Homo sapiens: one gene and its partners. The protein of the gene in region 3 binds, or shares a complex with, the protein of the main gene of each other region. Each region holds a gene or a part of one and is shown on either strand. Other genes may lie near its edges. The genes, in order: POLE3, POLE4 and POLE.

Region 1 (7,506 bases), on a different chromosome or scaffold from region 3:
ACAAAGTAAGACCCTATCCCCCACCAAAAAAAAAGGAAATAGAAAGACAGGGTTGGGCATGGTGGCTCACACCTGTAATTCTAGCACTTTGGGAGGCTGAGGCGGGTGGATCACTTGAGGTCACGAGTTTGAGACCAGCCTGGCCAACATGGTGAAACTCTGTCTCTACTAAAAATATAAAAATCAGCCACGCATGGTGGTGCACGCCTGTAATTCCAGATACTCGGGAGGCTGAGGCATGAGAATTGCTTGAACCTGGGAGACAGAGGTCGTGCCATTGCACTCCAACCTGGGTGACAGAGTGAGACTCTGTCTCAAAAAAGAAAAAAGAAAGATGGCATATATGGATGGTTTTCTGTCCGTACATACAGATGCTGATAAGATGGGCTGAATTGTGTCCTCCCAAAATTCATCGTTAAAGTCCCAACTAGTACTTCAGAATTTGACTGTATTTGGAGATATGGTTTTTTAAAAAGTTATTAAGGTAAAAATGAAGTCACATGAGGGGGCCCTAACCCAGTAAGACTGGTGTCCTTGTAAGAAGAAATTAAGACACAGACGCACAGAGGGAAGACCATGTTAACACATAGGGAGAGGGGCTCAGTATGGTGTCTCATGCCTGTAATCCCAACAATTTGGGAGGCCAAGGCAGGAGGATCACTTGAGGCCAGGAGTTCAAGACCGGCCCAGGCAACAAAGCAAGACCTCGTCTCTAATAAAAGTAAAAAAAAAAAAAAAAATTAACCAGGCGTGGTGGTGCACACTTGTAGTCCTAGCTACTTGGGAGGCTGAGGTGGGAGGATCGCTTGAGCCCAGAAAGTTGAGGCTGCAGTGAGCTATGATCGCACCATTGCACTCTAGTCCAGCCTGGGTGACAGGGTGAGACCCTGTCTCAAAAAAAATAAATAAAAAGGACACAGGGTATAAAAAATTACCATCTACAAACCAAGAGTGGTCTCAAAAGCAAACAGTCTTGGCAACACCTTGATATTGGACTTCTAGCCTCAAGAATTACAAGAAAATAAATTTTGTTGTTTAAGGCACCCAGTCTATGGTATTTTGTTATAACAGCCCTACCGAACCAATATACCTCCCAAATTAACCAATTCCTAGGGCACAAGCAGGAAGGGTTTCTTTCTGTTTCCCACTGCCTATTCACCACTTCTTTAACCCAATTGGTATTTTCTTTTTAATCTAGCTTTCTCAAAGTATACTAATGGATAAGGAAAATCATAATCCAGAATTTTGAGACAATAGGCTGTAAAGGAAGATTCCATGATAATTTACCTGCCATGAAATTTGGAGTAAAACTTTGAACTCTGAGACAATAAAGAATGGGCCTTAGTAAAGGTACATTCTGGTAAATGATGAGCTGCAAAGCCGGAATCTAAGATGTCTACCACGGTGAGCACTGGGAGTTTATCTAAGAAGGCAGACCAGAAGAAAACATGTTAACCTGCTGCCTGGAGAAAGGGAGCCACATACATAAATACGTTAAGGACCTCGTGAGGGAGAGGACAGAAGCTGGCTAATTCACCTTCAGCATCCAGGGGAGTTTTGCAGGATGAGCCGAGGATTCGAGGATGGCCCCTCTCAATGCGGCGGATAGTTGCCCAGCATTGTGGGTGCTGACAAACAGCCAAGCCACAGGTGGTTTCGTCCCACTGGCTCTCATCTGGCAAGTCCATAGCTAGAAATGGTTTAGGCCAAAGGCCAACCCTGCAGCATTCTAGTGCTCTGGAAAATCAACAGCTACATAATTAGGGAGTATTATACATTAGCCATACAGTCCAGATGTTAATTTGAACTCACAGTATAAAATATTTCTATTGAACCTATATAGGTAAATGATGGCCACAAAATAATTAAAGATTGGATAACAAGCAAGTATGAAAATAGCTCAGCATAAAGTAGAATGGCAAGAGTTTGAGAGCAGGACTTCAGGTCTCCTAATTGGCTATTTAATAGCTGAGTGACCTGGGACTTAACCAGTCTGAGCCTGTTGCCTCCACTGTAAAATGAGGATAAGCTTATTTCACAGGGTCATTATAAAAATTAGTTAATGGATATTAAAAGCCTGGCATATTGTTCCAAATAAATATTTGCATCCTTTCCTTTTCCCCTTCGTTAGTCATCAGGGAGAAGATGCCACCATCTCCAAAAAGCATTATCAAATTATGACCAAAGTAGTCACAGAAGTGTCTTAGAAGGCCCAAACTTCTGGAAGACATGTTTCATTTTTCAATGTGCTTCAGTTCCCATGCAGGCAGATAAAATACCCACCAGCAATGAATGTGTTTGCTCAAATAGCAAATCACTAGACACTGCTAGTTGCATCAGAGGCCATTAGCTTTTCATTCATTGGCCATATGGCCTTTGACAAGGGTCTTCACACCTCTCTCTCAAGTAGGGGGAGGGGTCCTGACTTGGTGTCTCAGGTCTGTAACCACAGCACTTTGGTAGGCCAAGATGAGTTACCCCCTCTCCACAAAAAATAATAAATAACATAAGCAGAAGGCAGGGAATCCCTAAGTAGGACTGCAGAAGCATTAAATGAGATAATGTACTTTTATTCATGGGAGGTGTTCAATAAATATTATCATCTTTTCCTTTCTAGAGGTGTTTTAGGCAATCACTAACTACCACCTTATTCCTAAGAACTTTTTAAGGACAGTGTCCATTTCTTTCTTTTATTCAACACATTTATTGATTACTAAATATGTGAGGGGACCTGCTTTGGACATGAACAGTAATAAACAAACTCCCTGTTCTAAACAGTTTCATAATTTAGATCAAAGATAAACTATCAGCCTGGGATTGCACCTGGCCTATTACTTGTTTTGTTTGGCTAGCACTTTGAATCAATTTTAAATTTGAATCAATTTTAAAATTGAAATAGCCCACAATGTCCTTTTAGGGACCAAAATACTTGACAACACTGAGCCCAATTCCAGTTGAAGAGCAACTGACTAGCGCTGAGCAGCCCTGATGGTTTCAGCCAGGTCTGTTCTATCCAAGCGGAGTTCCCCCACCAGACCTTATGGTCTCTAATTGAAACACTTTCAGTTGCCATTTATCATAGCATTTGCTCTTTTGTTTTAAAATATTTCTCTATAATCAGGCTTCTATCGAAAGCAGGAAAACTACAGGGCGACTTGGGACTGCATGCTTGACGGGAAAAAAAAGCAGCATTAATTCTCAGTGGGAGGCTGGGCGCCGTGGCTCATGCCTGTAATCTCAGCACTTTGCAAGGCCGAGGGAGAATCACTTGAGCCCTGGAGTTCGAGACCAGCCTGGGCAACATGGTGAAACCCTGTCTCTACGAAAAATACAAAAAATTAGCTGGGTGTGATGGAACGCACCTGTAGCCCCAGCTATTTGGGGCTGAGGTGGGAGGACCACCTGAGCCAGGGAGGTCGAGGCTACAGTGAGCCGAGACCGTGCCGCTGCACTCCAGCCTGGGGGACGGAGTGAGACCCTGTCAAGAAATTTTAAAAATTAAAAAATAAATAAAATCAGTGGGAGTGAGAATTTCTACGAACTTAATATAAAAATAACTTAAAAACAACTTAAAACACCATTGCGCCGGGCGCGGTGACTGGCGCCTGTAATCCCTGCACTTTGGGAGACCGAGGCGGGCGGATCACGAGGTCAGGAGATCGAGACCATCTTGGCTAACACGGTGAAACCCTGTCTCTACTAAAAATACAAAAAAATTAGCCGGGCGTGGTGGCGGGCGTCTGTAGTCCCAGCTACTAAGGAGGCTGAGGTAGGAGAATGGCGTGAACCCGGGAGGCGGAGCTTGCAGTGAGCCGAAATCGGCGCCACTGCACTCCAACCTGGGCGACAGAGTGAGACTGTCTCAAAAAAAAAAAAAAAGAAACGCCATTGCAAAACCTTGAGAATGGTTTTAACTGGAAAAAATGTATGATGAACAATTTAACTGAAAAATAAATACAATTTTAACACGGTTTGTTTTTGAAAGCGAATGTGACGTTGCATTCTTCATACAGTGAAAAGGCTGCTTCTCGCCCTTTCGTTACCTGCCCAGTCCGAATTGACTCCTGAGACCTAATCAGGCGCATCTCTATATGGCCAGCATTATCCCTGGGCTGCCTAAATAGTTCGCGTTAAACACAAACAACAACAATAAAATCTAAATAACACTCAGTCTTAGTACCATTATTACAAAAGCGTGAGGGGCGAAAAGATTAAAAATGAACATCAACTTCGGTAGAGATGGAAAAAGACTGCCCACTCCATTCCAGGAAAGAAAAAAGAAAGTGGGAGAATCTGATCACGACGGGCTGAGGTCCTGTGAGAGCAAAGCAGATTCCAAACCGCTTAGGGTTGCTAAATCAAGTGGTAAAACGTGGCCCCTTGCGGCGCGGTGAGATTAACGGACCCGGCGGGCCCAGAGCCTGCCTCGGGTCCTAAAGGGATCCGCCCCGCCGAGTCAGCCACGCCTTCGTCTCCCACGCGCTGCGCCCGGCCGCGCCGTCACCCAGCAGCGGCGCAGGGCACCATGGGAAACGGACGGAAGCTCCATTGAGCCAAATAAGTTGGTGAGAAGGTTCCCGACGCGGCGATGGCGAGAAGCAGAGAAATGGACCTGGGGAGGGGCGTGCGGGGTGCGGTAGGGTTGGATGGAAGCCTTGGCGGGCCAAAACCACTGCGGCTTCAAAATCCGGATGCGCCGGTATTTGAGGCGGAGGCGGGGCTGTGGGGGGAGGAGGGAGGCTATGGCGCTCAGAGCACTGTGGGACACTGTAGGCCACGTGGGGCGGAACGGAAACCTCGCAGGGTCAGACCGTAGCGACGCGGGAAGTCCGGACGCAGTAGCTCCCTGAAGCGGAGGCGAAGGGGAGTTTAAGCCCCAGCGGCGGCAATGGCGGAGAGGCCCGAGGACCTAAACCTGCCCAATGCCGTGATCACCAGGATCATCAAGGAGGCGGTGAGCAGCTCGGGGGGGGCGGACGAACGGGCAGGAGGGAAGCAGGTGCTGGAACGGCAGCTTTGCTCACCCCCGGTCTCCTCGCAGCTCCCGGACGGTGTCAACATCTCCAAGGAGGCCCGGAGCGCCATCTCCCGCGCCGCCAGCGTCTTCGTGCTGTACGCCACATCCTGGTGAGCGGGACAGAGGCATAAGGGAGGCGCGGGGATACCTGGCTGGGAGTTGCTGGCTGGGAGCCTACAAACCCCAACGATTGTGTTCTCCCTCGGTGGGGACATGTTCACAGTCCTCTGCCAGTTTTTACAAGTTCTGAAGCAAAATAACACAACAAAATCACTTTGCTTTAGCTTTTTTGTGCAGAGAAGGGAAGGACTTATCCCTGTCACACCAAAATCCATACATGTAAGAGGCAGGCTTTCCCGTTCCACCTCTGGGTGCTCCTTTTCCCACTCACGCCTTACAAACAAGAGGGAGTCTGACAGCCTTTCTCTTCTCTCAGTGCTAACAACTTTGCAATGAAAGGAAAGCGGAAGACGCTGAATGCCAGTGATGTGCTCTCAGCCATGGAAGAGATGGAGTTCCAGCGGTTCGTTACCCCATTGAAAGAAGCTCTGGAAGGTAACGAGCCTCTTGTCTTCTAAACCACATAGAAGATGGTCATCCTGTGTGACCTGTTCACCAGGCCCTGAGCCTTCTCAGCGCGGGTCCCTTTAAGTCCAGTAAGCCAGCACTTGATGTGACTCGACCCAGTTCGGTGGGCACCACCTCAGATCTGTTTTGTAATGCTGAGCAAGTTATTTTTCCTTCTCTGCCTCCGTTTTTGTTTTTGTCTTGCTTTTCTTGTTTTTGTTTTTTTTTTTTTTTTTTTGAGACGGAGTCTTGCTCTGTCACCCAAGCTGGAGTGCAGTGATGGGATCTCAGCTCACCGCAGTCTCCTCCTCCTGGGTTCAAGCAATTCTCCTGCCTCAGCCTCCCGAGTAGCTGGGACTACAGGCGCACGCCACCACGTGCGGCTCATTTTTTATTTTTGTAGAGACGGGGTTTCACCATATTGGCCAGGCTGGTCTTGAACTCCTGACCTCAGGTGATCCGCCCGTCTCAGCCTCCCAAAGTGCTGGGATTACAGGCGTGAGCCACCGCGCCCATCTGCCTCCGTTTTTCCAATTGTACAATGTAATTAGCTCCTGCAGTCCGTCTGGCTCACTTTCAGCTCTGTCTCCTAACCCCTTGTTCCGTCCTTACAGCATATAGGCGGGAGCAGAAAGGCAAGAAGGAGGCCTCAGAGCAAAAGAAGAAGGACAAAGACAAAAAAACAGACTCGGAAGAGCAAGACAAGAGCAGGGATGAGGACAATGATGAAGACGAAGAAAGGCTGGAAGAAGAAGAACAGAATGAAGAGGAAGAAGTAGACAACTGAAAAGGGCGGGAGACTGTGGCACCTTGGAAGGTACCACTTGAAATGAGACGTGCTACGTGTTTCTGTGAAGCTTTTCCATGCTGGGCAGAGTAGTCTCAGGCAAAAGTGCCTGAAAAGATCAGAATAAAAACTGACTAGAAATACCGTCAAAACCAGCACTTACCAAACTCAGAGCATCTGAGTAGCAGAATCCTGTTTTGCTTCATCAATCTGAAGGTTATGGCCTTTTGACAAGAGGGATTCTGAACGACTAAATTAGTCAGTTTGCTCGCTTTTGTTTACTTAAATGTATGGTTAGATGGTTTTTGATCTGCAGTCTTCCCTAGTCCCCCAAATAAGTAATAATAACTTCCATGCTGCCTGCTGTGTTCCAGATCACAGAGGCAGCCAAGGCTCAGGAAAAACTGGGGCTTTGCTTATGGTCAGCCTATGTTTGATTGCACAGTCTTTGACAATAGTAGCTTACTAAGACTGCTCAGAATGAGTAAGCTTTAGGAAACTACTAAAATGCTGTGGGAGAATAACAAAATCCGTTCTCTCTCTTCACTTGACAGAAGCATTAACTGAATTTTGTTTTTCATAGACCCACTTGGCCCAAAACCTTTCTATATTGCCTGTAGATGATCGGCCTGCTGGTGTGGTAGTAATCTGATCACAGATATTCTTAAATCAGCAGTGTGGAATGGTATTAGTCAAACATGGTGCCAGTGTCTTTTACAAAAACAGATGGCATAGTGTCAGATGTACCTTACTCTCTGCTACTGTACAGCTTTAGGATTTGTCATCACCTCCCGGAAGGTGTAAAACCCCAGGCTTCCTCTTCTTGTAGTCCATCTCCCAGACTTGTGACTATGGCTTTTCATTCTTCAATTCATGACGAGTGCCAAACTTGATTTTCTCTAGGCACAGCTTTCTCCCTCTGTGCCTCCTGCTTCCTTTCTCTCTCCTGCCTCTCCTCTGCTCCCCATCCCACTTTCTCATCTGCCTCCTTTTCTCACTTCTGTCAGTCTGTAAGCTTTGATAACCTGCTTAATACTCCAAAGTGTGAGTTCCTCTGATCTCTTGATTCCTTAGTTCTAATCTCACGTTTTGTTTTTAAGAGATGGAGTCTCTCACTCTGTGGCCCAGGCTGGAG
Region 2 (7,108 bases), on a different chromosome or scaffold from region 3:
AGTGATATGATCAGATTTGTATTTTAAGTGCACAACATTGCTGCCCTGGGGAAAATAAACTGGAGGGTACTAGGAATAGAAGTGGGGTGGTCTTATGTAGTTTTCCACTCTAGCCTCTATCACAGCATAGTGCTTAGCTTGGATTTTTAATAAATGGCCATTTATTGAATGATTGGTGTGTTTATTTTCATCCTCTGCCTTCATCCTCATTTATCTCTGTAATTGAATCCCTTTGCTCTGTCCTACATTGGTAGATCTGAATGTTAGCCATCATAGCCCCTGTGGATTCAGTCTGCATTATATTATTTTTTACTGGGTAAAATAAATGTTCTTATGTCCTTAGGTGTGTATGGTCTAAGTAAATACATTTTTTTCGTTTTTATAATACATATCCATACTTGAAAATCAAATCGTTACCTAATGGCTTATAATGAAGTACAGCTGCCGTCCACCCACTGTTTTGTTTGTGTTTTGAGCTTTTCTGGTGGTTACGTTTATTTCTAACTAATATGCTTACCCATTGGTTTGTCAGCTGTAGACGGTATGTATTGACTTCCTGCTGTGATAAATGAAGATTTGGCTAACCTGTAGAACCCCATAAATCCCCTGCTGTCTTTCTGATTTTTGGTAGTTGTATCACTAGTTTTAGTTTCTTTACCTTTACAGTTTATATAACATACTAGGATGTCTTTGGTTGTTGTGTCCAATTTTTAATGTATTCCTTGACTCCCCAGTTTGTAAAGTATGACTATTAGTGCATGTATCCCTTTTCCCTTTCTAGTTCACATCTAGCTATCAATTTGTGTTATCTAGTAATTTGACATTGTCAAAGCTAATAACATTTGTATCTTATCACAATTAAATCTTCCATGCTTTATCTCTGGTTGATTGTAGAAGTTGAAAACTAGGACTGTAAACAGTCTTTCTCTACCTTCTCTCTGTCCCTTAATTCCTCATTCAGGTCCCCTCCCTGCAAACAACTGTTACTAGTTTTCTTCTGTAATCTGGATATTTTATGCAAATATGTTTGTATGTGTATATGTATATTCTTTTTCTAAGTCATATGAAATACAACGTATGTAAAGTGTGTGCTGTAAATGTAAAGTCAATAAATGATAAAATGAACACTCTCGTAACCACCATCTTGGCCAAGAGATAGGGTATTGTCAGCCCCCAGAGTCCCACGTATATTCATTCTTCATCATACCTATTCTCATCCCCTTTCCCGACATTACTGTTTCCTAACTTTTTTGGTAATTACTTCCTTTTCTTTATAGCTTACTATATAAGCATGCATCCCTGAACACTAAGGTTTAGTTTTGTTTTGTTGAACTCTCTGCAAATGGAACCAAACCGTATGCATTCGTTGGCCAACATCTGTCACACAACTGTTTTAAGTTAACACATTTATGAGATTCATCTGTGTGATTGCACATAACTCATTTGTTCGTGTTCCTTGCTATATGACAGTACCACAATTGAACTATTTTAATGTTGATATTTGGGAAACCTTATTTCTCCTATTATAAACAATTTGCTGTGAACAATCTTGTACATATTTCTCTAGGGTGGATGTATATGTGTGTATAAAATATATAATACTGCTGGGACCTAGGCTATATAGAGTATTCGTATCTCCATCTTTGGCAGGTACTGCTGAACTTCCTGTATTCCAATTCACGTTCCTACCAGCAGTGCATGATAATTCCCATTGCTTCTCATTCTTACCCACACTTGGTATTACCAGAGTTTTTTATTTTTGACAAGCTGTTATTGAATGTAAGTGATAGTTGCATGTGGTGTTAATTCGTATTGCCCTGATTGTGGGTGACATTGGGCGTCTTTTCATATACATGCCCATTTTTTTTTGAGGGGTGTCTTCTATTTTTCTGTTAGCTATTTTTGTCCTTTTTCTTATTGACTTATAAAAATGCTTGCTGTATTTTATTTCATTTTTATTTATTTATTTTTTTGACGTGGAGTCTTGCTTTGTCATCCAGGCTGGAATGCAGTGGCATGATCTCTGCTCAATGCAGCCCCCCCTCCCACGTTCAAGAGATTCTCACGTAACTGGGACTACAGGCGTGTACCACCACGCCTGGCTAATTTTGGCATTTTTTTGGTAGAGATGGGGTTTCACTGTGTTGGCCAGGCTGGTCTCGAACTCCTGACCTCAAGTGATCTGCCTGCCTCCGCCTTCCAAGGTGCTGGGATTACAGGTGTGAGCCACTGCGCCCAGCCGTGCTTGTTATATTTTAGATATGAATCTTTTTTAGTATATGAGACGTATCTTTTCCTGCCTTTTCACTCCTTAAAAGGTTGTCTTTTGATACGCATTAAAATATAAAGGTAATCAAATGTATCAATTTTTTTCCTTATAACTAATGCTATTTGTGTTCATTTTAGAAAATATTCCCTACTGTATTGTCATGAAGACATTCTGTATATGCTAAAATCTTTATAGTTTTGTCTTTCATAACAGTGGAGTTGAATTTTTGTGTATTGGGTTGGGGGTCCAGTCTCATTTGTGTCTTCATATTTAGATATCCGCTTGTCCATATCGTCATCTCACTGCTTTGCAGTGCTACCTTTCTTATCAATCAAGGCTGTTTCTGGCCTTTCTGTTCTCTTCCATTGATCTATTTGTATCTCTTTTCCATTGATGGGTATTCTCACATCAGTACTATACTGTCTCAGTTATGGTAGCTTTATCTGAGAGAGCAGATCTTCCCACCTTGTTTTTTTCTAAGTATCTTTGCTATTTTTGAATCTTTGCATTTTCATGTACATTTTAGAATCTGTCAAATTCCACAAAAAGAGATATTAATTGGGATTGTATTGAATTTATAAATTACTGTGGGGAAGAAACGATATCTTTACAATAGTGAACCTTTCATTTTATAAATATGGTCTACTTTAACATTTATTAATATTTAGTTTTTAATAAATTATTTTACCTGAAGAAATCTTGATGTATTTTGTTAAATGTTGTTCTGTAAGTACTTAATATTTTTGATGATATTGTTAATGGTATCTTTCTAAAGAAAATTTTATTTTCTAAATATTGCTGTTTTTAGAAATATAATTGATTTTATGTTAATTTTGCAACTAGCATCTTTCTTAGCTGTTATTCTTAGTTTTTTTACTTAAAAATTTTGTTTTGATGTAGTTCTTAATAATTTGAATGACATATCTGTTGATTTTTGAATTTCTTTAATTACATAGTAGTATATCATCTGCCAATAATAATAATTTTGTGAAGTTCTTTCCAATCCTTATCTTTATATATTTTTTTCTTGCCCTACTGAACTGGCTAGAATCTCTAGTACAGTGTTGCATGGAAGTGGTAAGAGCAGGCATTTTTGACTTCCAAGGGAAAGCTTTCAGTATTTACCTAGTAATTATGCTTACTGTAGATTTTATGTAGATTTTTTAACAGATTATGAATGTTGCATCCCTGTTTATAAAAGAGATTAGTCTTTTTTTTTCATACTGTGTGTGAGCTTCATACAATTCATTGGCAATTATACACTTTTTATCTATTTTTTTTTTTTTTTTGGTGGGGGATGGAGTCTCACTCTGTTGCCCAGGGTGGAGTACAGTGGTACGATCTCAGCTCATTGCAACCTCTGCCTCCTGGGTTCAAGTGATTCTCCTGCCTCAGCCTCTCGAGTAGCTGGGATTACAGGCTCGCACCACCACACCCCAATAATTTTTGTATTTTAGTAGAGATGGGGTTTTGCCATGTTGGTCAGGCTGGTCTTGAACTCCTGACCTCAGGTGTTCAAGGTCCACCCGCCTCAGCCTCCCAAAGTGTTGGGATTACAGGCGTGAGCCACCGCGCCTGGCCCACTTTTTATCTTATCTATTCTCTGGAAAACTTATTGAAAGATTGGAATTATTTTGTTTTTGAATATTTGATGGAATTCAGTGATGCTGTTAGAGGGGTTGCAATGCCAAATTTGGTTATTGTATAATTTAGATTTTCTGTGTTCTTACTGAATTTCTTCTGTCTGCTTATTTTACCTGTTTCAAAGAGTTATGTGTTAAAACTCTACTGCTATGATTATGGACTATTTCTACTTATATTTCTGGGTCTATTCTTTCATTATATATTATGAAACCATGTGATTAGATATATACAAATTTAATGTTGTTATATATTGTTGGTGATTGAGCCTTTTATATTTGTAAATTGGCTATTGTTATTTCTAACTGCTTTGAGCCCTAAAGTCTATTTTGTTTAATATTATTAAAGCTTATCAGCTTTCTTTAGTTAGTATTTATTTGCACGGTACGGATTTTTGTAAATCTTTTAATTTTTATCTTTCCATATATTTGTGAACAGAATTTAACTGGATTATTTTCCTAAATTCAGACAGTCTGTGTCTATAACTGGAGCACGTCATTTATTTATGTTTAATGTAATTGGTCATATCTATGAGTTTGAATTCTATTGTCTTATTTTGTCCTGCTTTTTATTTGCTTGTTTTATGTTTTGTTTTTTTTTTCTCTCAATTTTTGGCCTTCTTTTGGATTATTATTTGATTTTTTTCCCTCTATCAGCTTGGAAGTTATATGCTCTATTTCTATTCTTTTAGTGATTATCAGTTACTATGTAAGTCCTTAATTTATCAAAGCCTATTTAGTACCTTTCCCCTCATTCTCAACAAATTGAGATCTCAGGATCCATTAACTCAATTTTCAAATTCCTCGTCTCCTAATTTATGTGCTGTTATTGTCATGTATTTTTGTTTTGTCTTTGTCAATCTACATAAGGCATTTTTATTCCTGAATTATGCAGTCAATGATATATGGATTTAGTCACATACTACCTTTGCTTTTCTTTCCTTTCTGGATTATTATTATTTTTGAGACAGTTTCATTTCGTCACCCAGGCTGGAGTGCAGTGGTGCGATCTCAGCTCACTGCAACCTCTGCCTCCTGGGTTCAAGTGATTCTCATGTCTCAGCCTCCCAAGTAGCTGGAATTACAGGCATGCACCACCAAGCCTGGCTAGTTTTTTTTGTATTTTTAGTAGAGATGGGGTTTCACCATGTTGACCAGGCTAGTCTCAAACTCCTGACCTCAAGTCATCTGCCTGCCTTGGCCTCCCAAGTGCTGGGATTACAGGCGTGAGCTGCTGTGCTTGGCCTCCTTTCTGTATTTCCGATCCTCCATTTGTGATCATTTTCTTCTTCCTGAAATAAATCATTTAGAACTTCATTTAGTATGGTCTGGTAACTGACTCTCTCATTTTTTTCTTATGAAAATGCCTTGAATTTCATTGTTGGAGGATAATTTGTTGAATATAAATTCTAGGTGGAAAATTATTTTCTTTTAGCACATTGAAGCTATCATTTTACTGCTTTTTTTTTTGGCTTCTATGTTTTCTATAGAGAAATTACCTGTTTGTAATTCTTTTGAAGCTAGTTTATCCTTTTTGTTTTTTGTCTGCTTTTAAGATTTTCACTTTGATTTTCTGTGGTTTCACTCTGATGTACAGAGGTGTGGATTTCTTTTTATGTAGTTTGTTTGAGCTTCTTGAATCTATAGATTAATGTCTTTCATCTGTCCTGGAAAATTCTCAGCGAGTGTCTCTTCAGCTATTGGCTCTGCCTTGTTCTTTCCTGTGTCTCTCTCTGGGATTCCCATTAAATATATGTAAAAACTCAATCATAATTTTGCCTCTCTAGTATGCATTCTGTGTAATTTTTTCTGATCTTCCAGTTTATTCTCTCCATTTGTCTCATTTCCTTTAAACTATTTTTTTTGTTTTTTTTTTTTAGTTTCAGTTTTTGTATTTTTCAGTACTGTGAGTTCTGTTTGGTTCCTTTCCAAATCTGTTGTCTTTTTTTTTAGCTTAATAAAGTATCAAGCAATTTTTGTGAGTACTTTTTGTTGTTCTTATTTTCTGCAGGTATTTTGAAGTTTGTCTTTTAGTTCTGTAAACATAGTAAACACAGTTGTTTTATAGTGAATGTTCCATCCAATATATGACCTAATATTCAAAGCCTTTTGAGTTTTTTGTTTGCTAGTCTGTGCCGAATCTAACATCCATAGTCTCTTGAGACTGTCTTTTTGTCTGTTGTTTCTTTTGGTACTGTCACATGGCCTTTTATCCCCCTATATGCCTATCTTTGGATAATGGTTATTTTCTTTAAAAAGTATTTGTTAGATAAGTTGAGGCCATATGGTGATACTTTCTCCAAAGAAAATTTCCATTTGCTCCTGAAGCCACCTACAGCCATTATCAGTGCAGGACTTCTGAATCCAGATCTAAGACTTGAAGGTTTCTGGACTATCATACTGATATGAACTCAGGCTGCAGGCCTGTGAAGGGGCACTGATTAAATTCCAGTTCGTCCTTACTCTGAGGGGGCAGCCTTTTGGGCTCTAGCTTAAGAAAGATGGGTGTCAGACTTCCTTACTTGGGTAGACTCAGGGATTTGACTCTTGGTTCCTTCAGCCTACACAAATAACCGCCCAGTTTCTCAGCTTTTTCAGATTGGCAGATGTCATGAGAGCAGAAGTAACATTAGAGGCTGGGTTTGTTTTGTGTTCTTACTGTCTCTAGATTTCACATTTGCTTTTTCTTGATGTCTCTTCAATTCCTGAAGATTTCCTTTTCTTATATATTTTATTTAGCTTTCTCAGTTGATCTCAACAGGAACTTGCCATTATGAAAAGCACCTCTATTTTTTTTTAAATTAGAAGTGTTTTTGCTTTATTTTTCTTATGTTTTTATTTTCCCTATATTATCTAGGTCATTAAAAAAAGTTTTGGTATCCTTTCAACTGTGTAGCTTTCTTCAGATACCTGGTGATTTTCATTCTATTTAAGAATAAGGGAATAAGGCTGTTTGGTAACTGTGTGTGTGTGTATGGGATGAGGGGGTGGTTGTTGCCTGGCAGCTTTGCTTTAGGGTGAACAGGGGTGGGACCAGATGTTGTCCTGGGTGACCCCGAGGGTATGAATGCAGAATGCTTTGCTGTGGGAAGCTGGCAGTTTTAGAGGCTGTTCTAGTTTTCTCCATATAGTTCATTTGGTTCTTTAGAAGAGAGCCCTGTGATCTTTGTTTTTTTTTTTTTTCCAAGTTAGGTTTAAA
Region 3 (7,108 bases):
GTGTGATATAGTAACCAGTCAATGGTAGCTCTGTGAATGAGAGCCTGTGTGGAGTACTGGGACGGTGTGATACAGTAACCAGTCAATGGTAGCTCTCTGTGAATGAGAGCCTGTGTGGAGTACTGGGACGGTGTGATATAGTAACCAGTCAATGGTAGCTCTGTGAATGAGAGCCTGTGTGGAGTACTGGGACGGTGTGATACAGTAACCAGTCAATGGTAGCTCTCTGTGAATGAGAGCCTGTGTGGAGTACTGGGACGGTGTGATACAGTAACCAGTCAATGGTAGCTCTCTGTGAATGAGAGCCTGTGTGGAGTACTGGGACGGTGTGATACAGTAACCAGTCAGTGGTAGCTCTCTGTGAATGAGAGCCTGTGTGGAGTACTGGGACGGTGTGATACAGTAACCAGTCAATGGTAGCTCTCTGTGAATGAGAGCCTGTGTGGAGTACTGGGACGGTGTGATATAGTAACCAGTCAATGGTAGCTCTCTGTGAATGAGAGCCTGTGTGGAGTACTGGGACGGTGTGATATAGTAACCAGTCGATGGTAGCTCCCTGTGTGACACTTATCCCCATTTTTCAGATTTCTTACTGTCCCTGGATTAAAAGTGAGATACACAGCTCAGAGAAAGCAGTTTTGGGAGGAAATATGGTCCCAGTGAGCAGTTTTCTAGTCTACTTAATCCAACTTACTTGAGGCAAGGATATTTGGAGGACTGGCATAGAGGGCCGTGCGCCCCTGTTAAGAGGTGATGCCTCGTAAATAGCACTTCATTCACTCTTGATTTTGATAAAGATCTGGGACTCAGAACTGAGGCTGTTCTCTAGCAAGATTTGGAATATAGTTTTTCTGTGTTTTTGATTACGGGTGCATTCAACTATTTAAAAGATTAAACCTTTATTATACAGTATGGTGGTGTATCAGTTTCCTATTGCTGCAGTAACACATGATCACTTAGTGACTATATAAATTTATTCTCTTACGGTTTTAGAAGTCAGAAGTCGTAATATGAAAGTGTCTGGTTGGTTATATTTATTGTGATGGTTCCCGGGGGAGAATCTGTTTCCTTGCTGCTTCTTCATCTTCAGAACCAAGGGTTGCATCTCCTCTCCCCCCTACCCTCTCTCTCCCATCCCTTTCTCCTTCCTGACTCTAGCTCTCCTGCCTCACTCTACAAGGATTCTTGTGATTACACTGCGCCCACCCAGCTAAGCAGAATCTCAAGGCCCTTAATTTAGTCAGATCTGCAAAGACCCTTTTGTCTTGTAAGATAACATTCACAGGTTTGGGGGATTAGGATGTGGGTCTTTCATGGGGGGTGTCATCCTGCCTGCCTACCACAAGTGGTTATAATCTTTCATGAGAAGTAAGGATCCTAGTCTTGGAATATGGTCATTCTGCTCTTGAGTTGAAGGTGATCCAAGGAATACCTTCAGACAAAGGAAGGGTCTTCCTTTCTTTTTTTATCTTGTTCTTTTTTTATTTTATTTTTTTTTTAGACGGAGTCTCGCTCTGTCGCCCAGGCTGGAGTGCAGTGGCATGATCCCAGCTCACTGCAAGCTCTGCCTCCTGGATTCACGCCATTCTCCTGCCTCAGCCTCCCGAGTAGCTGGGACTACAGGCGCCCGCCACCACGCCCGGCTAATTTTTCGTATTTTTAGTAGAGACGGGGTTTCACCATGTTAGCCAGGATGGTCTCAAACTCCTGGCCTCAAGTCATCCACCCTCCTTGGCCTCCCAAAGTGCTGGGATTACAGTTGTGAGCCACTGCGCCTGGCCCTCAACCTTTTTTTGAGGTAATTGTAGATTGATTCTCATGCATTTGTCAGAAATGATACAGAGATTCCCGTATCACTTCACCATAACATCTTGTGTAAGTAGAGTACAATTGTCACAACTAAGAAATTGACATTGAGACGACCCATCTAATTTATTTTATCTTATTTTATTTTATTTATTTTTTTGAGACGAAGTTTCACTCTTGTCACCCAGGCTGGAGTGCAGTGGCGCAATCTTGGCTCACTGCAACCTCCACCTCTAGGGTTCAAGTGATTCTCCTGCCTCAGCCTCCTGAGTAGCTGGGATTATAGGCCCACCCCACCACACCCAGCTAATTTATTTATTTATTTATTTATTTTTATTTATTTTTTTTTTTTTGCCGGAGTCTCGCTCTGCTGCCCAGGCTGGAGTGTGGTGGCGCGTTCTCGGCTCACTGCAAGCTCCACCTCCTGGGTTCACGCCATTCTCCTGCCTCAGCCTCCTGAGTAGCTGGGACTATAGGCACCCACCACCACGCCTGGCTAAGTTTTTGTATTTTTAGTAAAGACGGGGTTTCACTGTATTAGCAGGATGGTCTAGATCTCCTCACCTCGTGATCCGCCCGCCTCGGCCTCCCACGGTGCTGGGATTTAATTTTTTGTATTTTTAGTAGAGACAGGGTTTCACCATGCTGGCCAGGCTGGTCTCAAACTCCTGACCTCAGGTGATCCACCCGCCTTGGCCTCCCAAAGTTTTGGGATTACAGGCGTGAGCCACTGTGCCTGGCCTGACAATCCGTCTGTTTTATTCAAATCATGTCAGTGTTACATGCACTCTCATGAGCCACCGCGTCTGGCTAGTTTTATGCATTTTTAGTGTCCCAAGAGGCAACAGTGTCTAGCCATCATGACTCTTTTTGTTAGTATTCTGGTTATAAAGTTGAACAGGTTTTGAAGGGCCTGCCCTAATTGTGTTTTTCCAATGAGTCCTTTTATCTTAATGAGCCTTTTTCCAAGCTCGGGGTTTTTCAGGAATATATATACCCTGTCATATCCGAAACACTTAACACTAGGTGGGATGAGGGTTGCAGAAGTAGGTGGCAGTCGGATCACAAGGTCAGGAGATCGAGACCATCCTGGCTAACACGGTGAAACCCCGTCTCTACTAAAAATACAAAAAATTAGCCAGGCGTGGTGGCTGTCGCCTGTGGTCCCAGCTACTCGGGAGGCTGAGGCAGGAGAATGGCGTGAACCCGGGAGGCGGAGCTTGCAGTGAGCCGAGATCACACCACTGCACTCCAGCCTAGGCGACAGAGCAAGACTCCGTCTCAAAAAAAAAGAAAAAAAAGAAAAAAAGAAGCAGCAGCAGGTGGCATTACAAATTAAGCACGGGGTTCCCTTCTTTCACTCAGGGATGATGGCGCCACTTCCTCAGTTTCGGCACTCAAGCGCCTGGAACGGAGTCAGTGGACGGATAAGATGGATTTGCGGTTTGGTTTTGAGCGGCTGAAGGAGCCTGGTGAGAAGACAGGCTGGCTCATTAACATGCATCCTGTAAGCACTAGGTCCTTCTCCCACCCAGGAATATGGCTGCAACCCTTCTGGTCATAGCGTGGTCCTTATCTAAAGAGTGGGGGACACATGAGGGAACTTTGAGTGAATCAGGTGGGAGATGTGAAGGTTCCCAGCTCTCCTTTCCTCTTTAACGTCATTGAGGGCCACAGAGAGGCCACTGTGAGAAGCCGGAGGTGATGGGCATCTCTTTTAGCCATCAGAATAAAGCTTTCAAGGATTATGAGGGAGAAATTGAGAGAGATCCCCATTTGGAGGCCGTTACAGTGTGGTTCTTGTGAATAAGGCTGGTAGTGTTAATGTAGGGGTGGAGTAAAGACCTAGATGAGAGGGTTTGTTTCTAAAGTGCTGAGTTTCCCGAAAGGTAGGAGGAAAGTTTCTCTAACTGTGTAGAGGATGGTCTTGTGTCTGTGTTGACTGATTCTCTTGTAGACCGAGATTTTAGATGAAGATAAGCGCTTAGGCAGTGCAGTGGATTACTACTTTATTCAAGATGACGGAAGCAGATTTAAGGTAAGCCCCTGACTGCGACAAGCTAAAACCCACTTTTATGGGTGTTCATGTAGCTCTGTGACTGTCAGGGAGGGCATGGGAGGCTTCCAGTGCACAGCAGCCCATAGCCCAGCAGAACTCGGGCCCCTGGAGGCCCCATCAGTCATCACGTAAGATGTCCTGAGAGAGGTCAGTTCAGGAAGACTCTGAATGGTGAGAAGTAGCGTGTCTTTCAGATTCTTGCCCCTGTGAAAAGTGCGCATTCTGACTTCCTGTATGCTACCAAGGTCAAGGCTACCCTGGCCCTAGGCTGTTCATGGGATATAGGAGCAAGCAATGTGTTTTCACTTTTCTCTCGCTTTCTTCTTTCTCATCACCCCTGGATGGGTTGGTGACTCTTAACAGGTGGCTTTGCCCTATAAACCGTATTTCTACATTGCGACCAGAAAGGTGAGTGTGTTTCATAGACTCAGGTCAGACGACCTGTGTGTCATTCTGTGGTGGGCTTTGCAACTGGGAAATAGGCAAGGAAGGAAATGTATTTTACCAATGGAAAGCCTTTTCATTCTGATCCTGATTAGGGTTGTGAGCGAGAAGTTTCATCTTTTCTCTCCAAGAAGTTTCAGGGCAAAATTGCAAAAGTGGAGACTGTCCCCAAAGAGGATCTGGACTTGGTGAGTATCACCCAGACTTTCCAGGGGTAAATGAGGCCAGAGTCTACATTGTTCCTGGCAGGTGGGATCGGAAGAGGTAGAAATTCAGGTCATCTGTTGGGTGATGGGGCGGTGTGGTGACCGTCTATAAAATTCCTTCCAAAGAGCTCTAGTGGTGTTAGTTGGTGCCACGTGCAGAGTTGGACAAGGTGCCTTGAAGTCGCCAACTCTTTGACTTGTGTGTTTACCTTTGAGTGTTTACCCTCTCACCCATAAAGTCCTATTTCTCTTGAACCAATGAGCGTGATCTCTTCGCATTATAGCCAAATCACTTGGTGGGTTTGAAGCGAAATTACATCAGGCTGTCCTTCCACACTGTGGAGGATCTTGTCAAAGTGAGGAAGGAGATCTCCCCTGCCGTGAAGAAGAACAGGGAGCAGGATCACGCCAGCGACGCGTACACAGCTCTGCTTTCCAGGTAAACTTTGGTCTTGTGAGCAAAGCATCAGCGGTTCAGAACGACAAGATGGATAGGAGACAGGAACACGTAGCAACAAAGTTACCTTAATGGCTGGCTCTGTTTGATACGGAAAACTTGAGCAATTAGGTAGAGATTTCTGTATGTTCTGTGTTAAATAAACAGTGGCTTCCCAGGTTATATTTTATGTGTTAGCTCTCTTTTCCAATGGAGGGGTGGGTTTATGGCTCTAAAATTGAGTGGTTGTAATAGTAAAGTCACCTTAGAGGGGAAAAGATCCCTCATCCTACTGCCCTAACACAATCCATCTATGAATTTCATTAAGTGCTGAGATTTACACAGCACATCTCCAGAGAACCTTGGGTATCGTCCACAGAAATTTAAGCCTAGAACACTAAACACTGTTCTTCAAGTATTTGAGCATCAACAATAATAGGATGCAAAGTAACCAGTTAGGAAGAGAAAATCTTGAGTAATGAAGTTTAGATGACTTCGGAAGAACCTACCTTACCCTCTGACAAAAGAGGATCAGTTTGGGATGCTGAACATTTCTACAGTCCCTACCCGGAGTCCGCCTTCCCTGGCAATGCCACAAGTTGCTTTTTGAAATATTGGAAGGTGTGATCAGAGACTGAGTCCTCAGAGACTTGAGCCATATCTGAGACTCGTCTGTCTTTTTCCCCCTGAATAGCCCGTTCAGTATTTGAGCTTATAGGCCAATAGTGGCCGCAATGGTGGGCCACTTCTTTAGACATGGCAGAGACCCATGCACAGGCTGTGTGAAGCCCAGGCCTGCTCTTCAGCCTGCATGAGGCAGCCTCCTGAGTATCAGGACCATGGTGGGATGGTCATGCCTGGCTCTCCTGACTGGCAGCACTTAATGTTTTCTTTCTTTTTTCTTCTATTTACTTATTTGTTTTGAGACAGGGTCTTGCTCTGTTGCCCAGGCTGGAGTGCAGTGGTGCAATCATAGCTCACTGTGGCCTCGAACTCCTGGGCTCAAGCGATCCTTTCACCTCAGCCTCCTGAGTAACTGGGATCACAGGTGTGTACCCCATGCCTGGCTAATTATTATTATTATTATTATTACTTTTGTAGAGATGAGTCTCCCTATGTTGCCCAGGCCTGTCTTGAACTCCTGGGCCGAAGCGATCCTCCTGCCTCCCAGAGTGCTGGGATTAGAGGCATAAGCCACCATGCTTGGCCCTCTTTTTTTTTTTCTAGTTGGGGTGTAACTCACATCATATAAAATGAATACATCTTACACTGAATTTTCTCCTGTCTGTAGAGTTATCATCCAAGCTATTCTTTATTTTTTTGAGATGGAGTCTCGCTCTGTTGCCCAGGCTGGAGTGCAGTGGCGCAATCTGGGTTCACTGCAACCTCCGCCTCCTGGGTTCAAGTGATTCTCCTGCCTCAGCCTCCCAGGTATCTGGGGTTACAGACATGCGCCACCACGCCTGGCTAATTTTTGTATTTTTAGTAGAGATGAGGTTTCGTCGTGTTGGCCAGGCTCGTCTCGAACTCCTGACCTCGGGTGATCCGCCTTCCTTGGCCTCCCAAAGTGCTGGGATTACAGGCGTGAGCTGCCACGCCTGGCCCAGTCCAAGCCATTCTTAAAGGAAGGACTGCCTTGGTCGTTGAAACCACATCAATTTACCTTTTGTGTTTCCTCGGTTTGAACTCTGGTCTCACCTCTTCCTACTGAGTTGGAACTCTGGTCTCACCTCCTCCAGACCCTGGCAGCTGAGTTAGTTGCTCTCTTGTTAATTCCTAGTGTTCTGCAGAGGGGCGGTGTCATTACTGATGAAGAGGAAACCTCTAAGAAGATAGCTGACCAGTTGGACAACATTGTGGACATGCGCGAGTACGATGTTCCCTACCACATCCGCCTCTCCATTGACCTGAAGATCCACGTGGTGAGTGGGGCAGGGTTGGGTCGCTGCTCACATGAATTTCCTAACAGCCAGGAGATGATCATTATGGGTGAATCCACAGAAGAATAGACTTTCCTGGATGTAGAACTCTAGTTAGCACACTGTGTGTTTTGCAGGCTCATTGGTACAATGTCAGATACCGAGGAAATGCTTTTCCGGTAGAAATCACCCGCCGAGATGACCTTGTTGAACGACCTGTAAGTTTTGCTTGTGTTAC

What was found.
Region 1: POLE (region 3) and POLE3 share a complex: the UniProt entries of both Homo sapiens proteins name them as parts of the DNA polymerase epsilon complex.
Region 2: POLE (region 3) and POLE4 share a complex: the UniProt entries of both Homo sapiens proteins name them as parts of the DNA polymerase epsilon complex.

What each region holds. Positions count from the first base shown.
Region 1 is NC_000009.12:113,407,676-113,415,181, reverse strand, and holds the start of POLE3 (DNA polymerase epsilon subunit 3), read left to right. Parts: upstream 1-4,506; 5' UTR 4,507-4,565; intron 4,566-4,773; 5' UTR 4,774-4,888; coding exon 4,889-4,954; intron 4,955-5,041; coding exon 5,042-5,127; intron 5,128-5,453; coding exon 5,454-5,572; intron 5,573-6,198; coding exon 6,199-6,371; 3' UTR 6,372-7,506. Other genes in the region: uncharacterized protein C9orf43, read right to left, coding at 1,288-1,423, 1,538-1,737, 4,259-4,263. UniProt on the Homo sapiens protein: Accessory component of the DNA polymerase epsilon complex. Participates in DNA repair and in chromosomal DNA replication.
Region 2 is NC_000002.12:74,961,549-74,968,656, forward strand, and holds part of POLE4 (DNA polymerase epsilon subunit 4), read left to right. Parts: intron 1-7,108. UniProt on the Homo sapiens protein: Accessory component of the DNA polymerase epsilon complex. Participates in DNA repair and in chromosomal DNA replication.
Region 3 is NC_000012.12:132,677,343-132,684,450, reverse strand, and holds part of POLE (DNA polymerase epsilon catalytic subunit A), read left to right. Parts: intron 1-3,171; coding exon 3,172-3,313; intron 3,314-3,763; coding exon 3,764-3,844; intron 3,845-4,228; coding exon 4,229-4,273; intron 4,274-4,404; coding exon 4,405-4,497; intron 4,498-4,799; coding exon 4,800-4,954; intron 4,955-6,731; coding exon 6,732-6,873; intron 6,874-7,007; coding exon 7,008-7,088; intron 7,089-7,108. UniProt on the Homo sapiens protein: Catalytic component of the DNA polymerase epsilon complex. Participates in chromosomal DNA replication.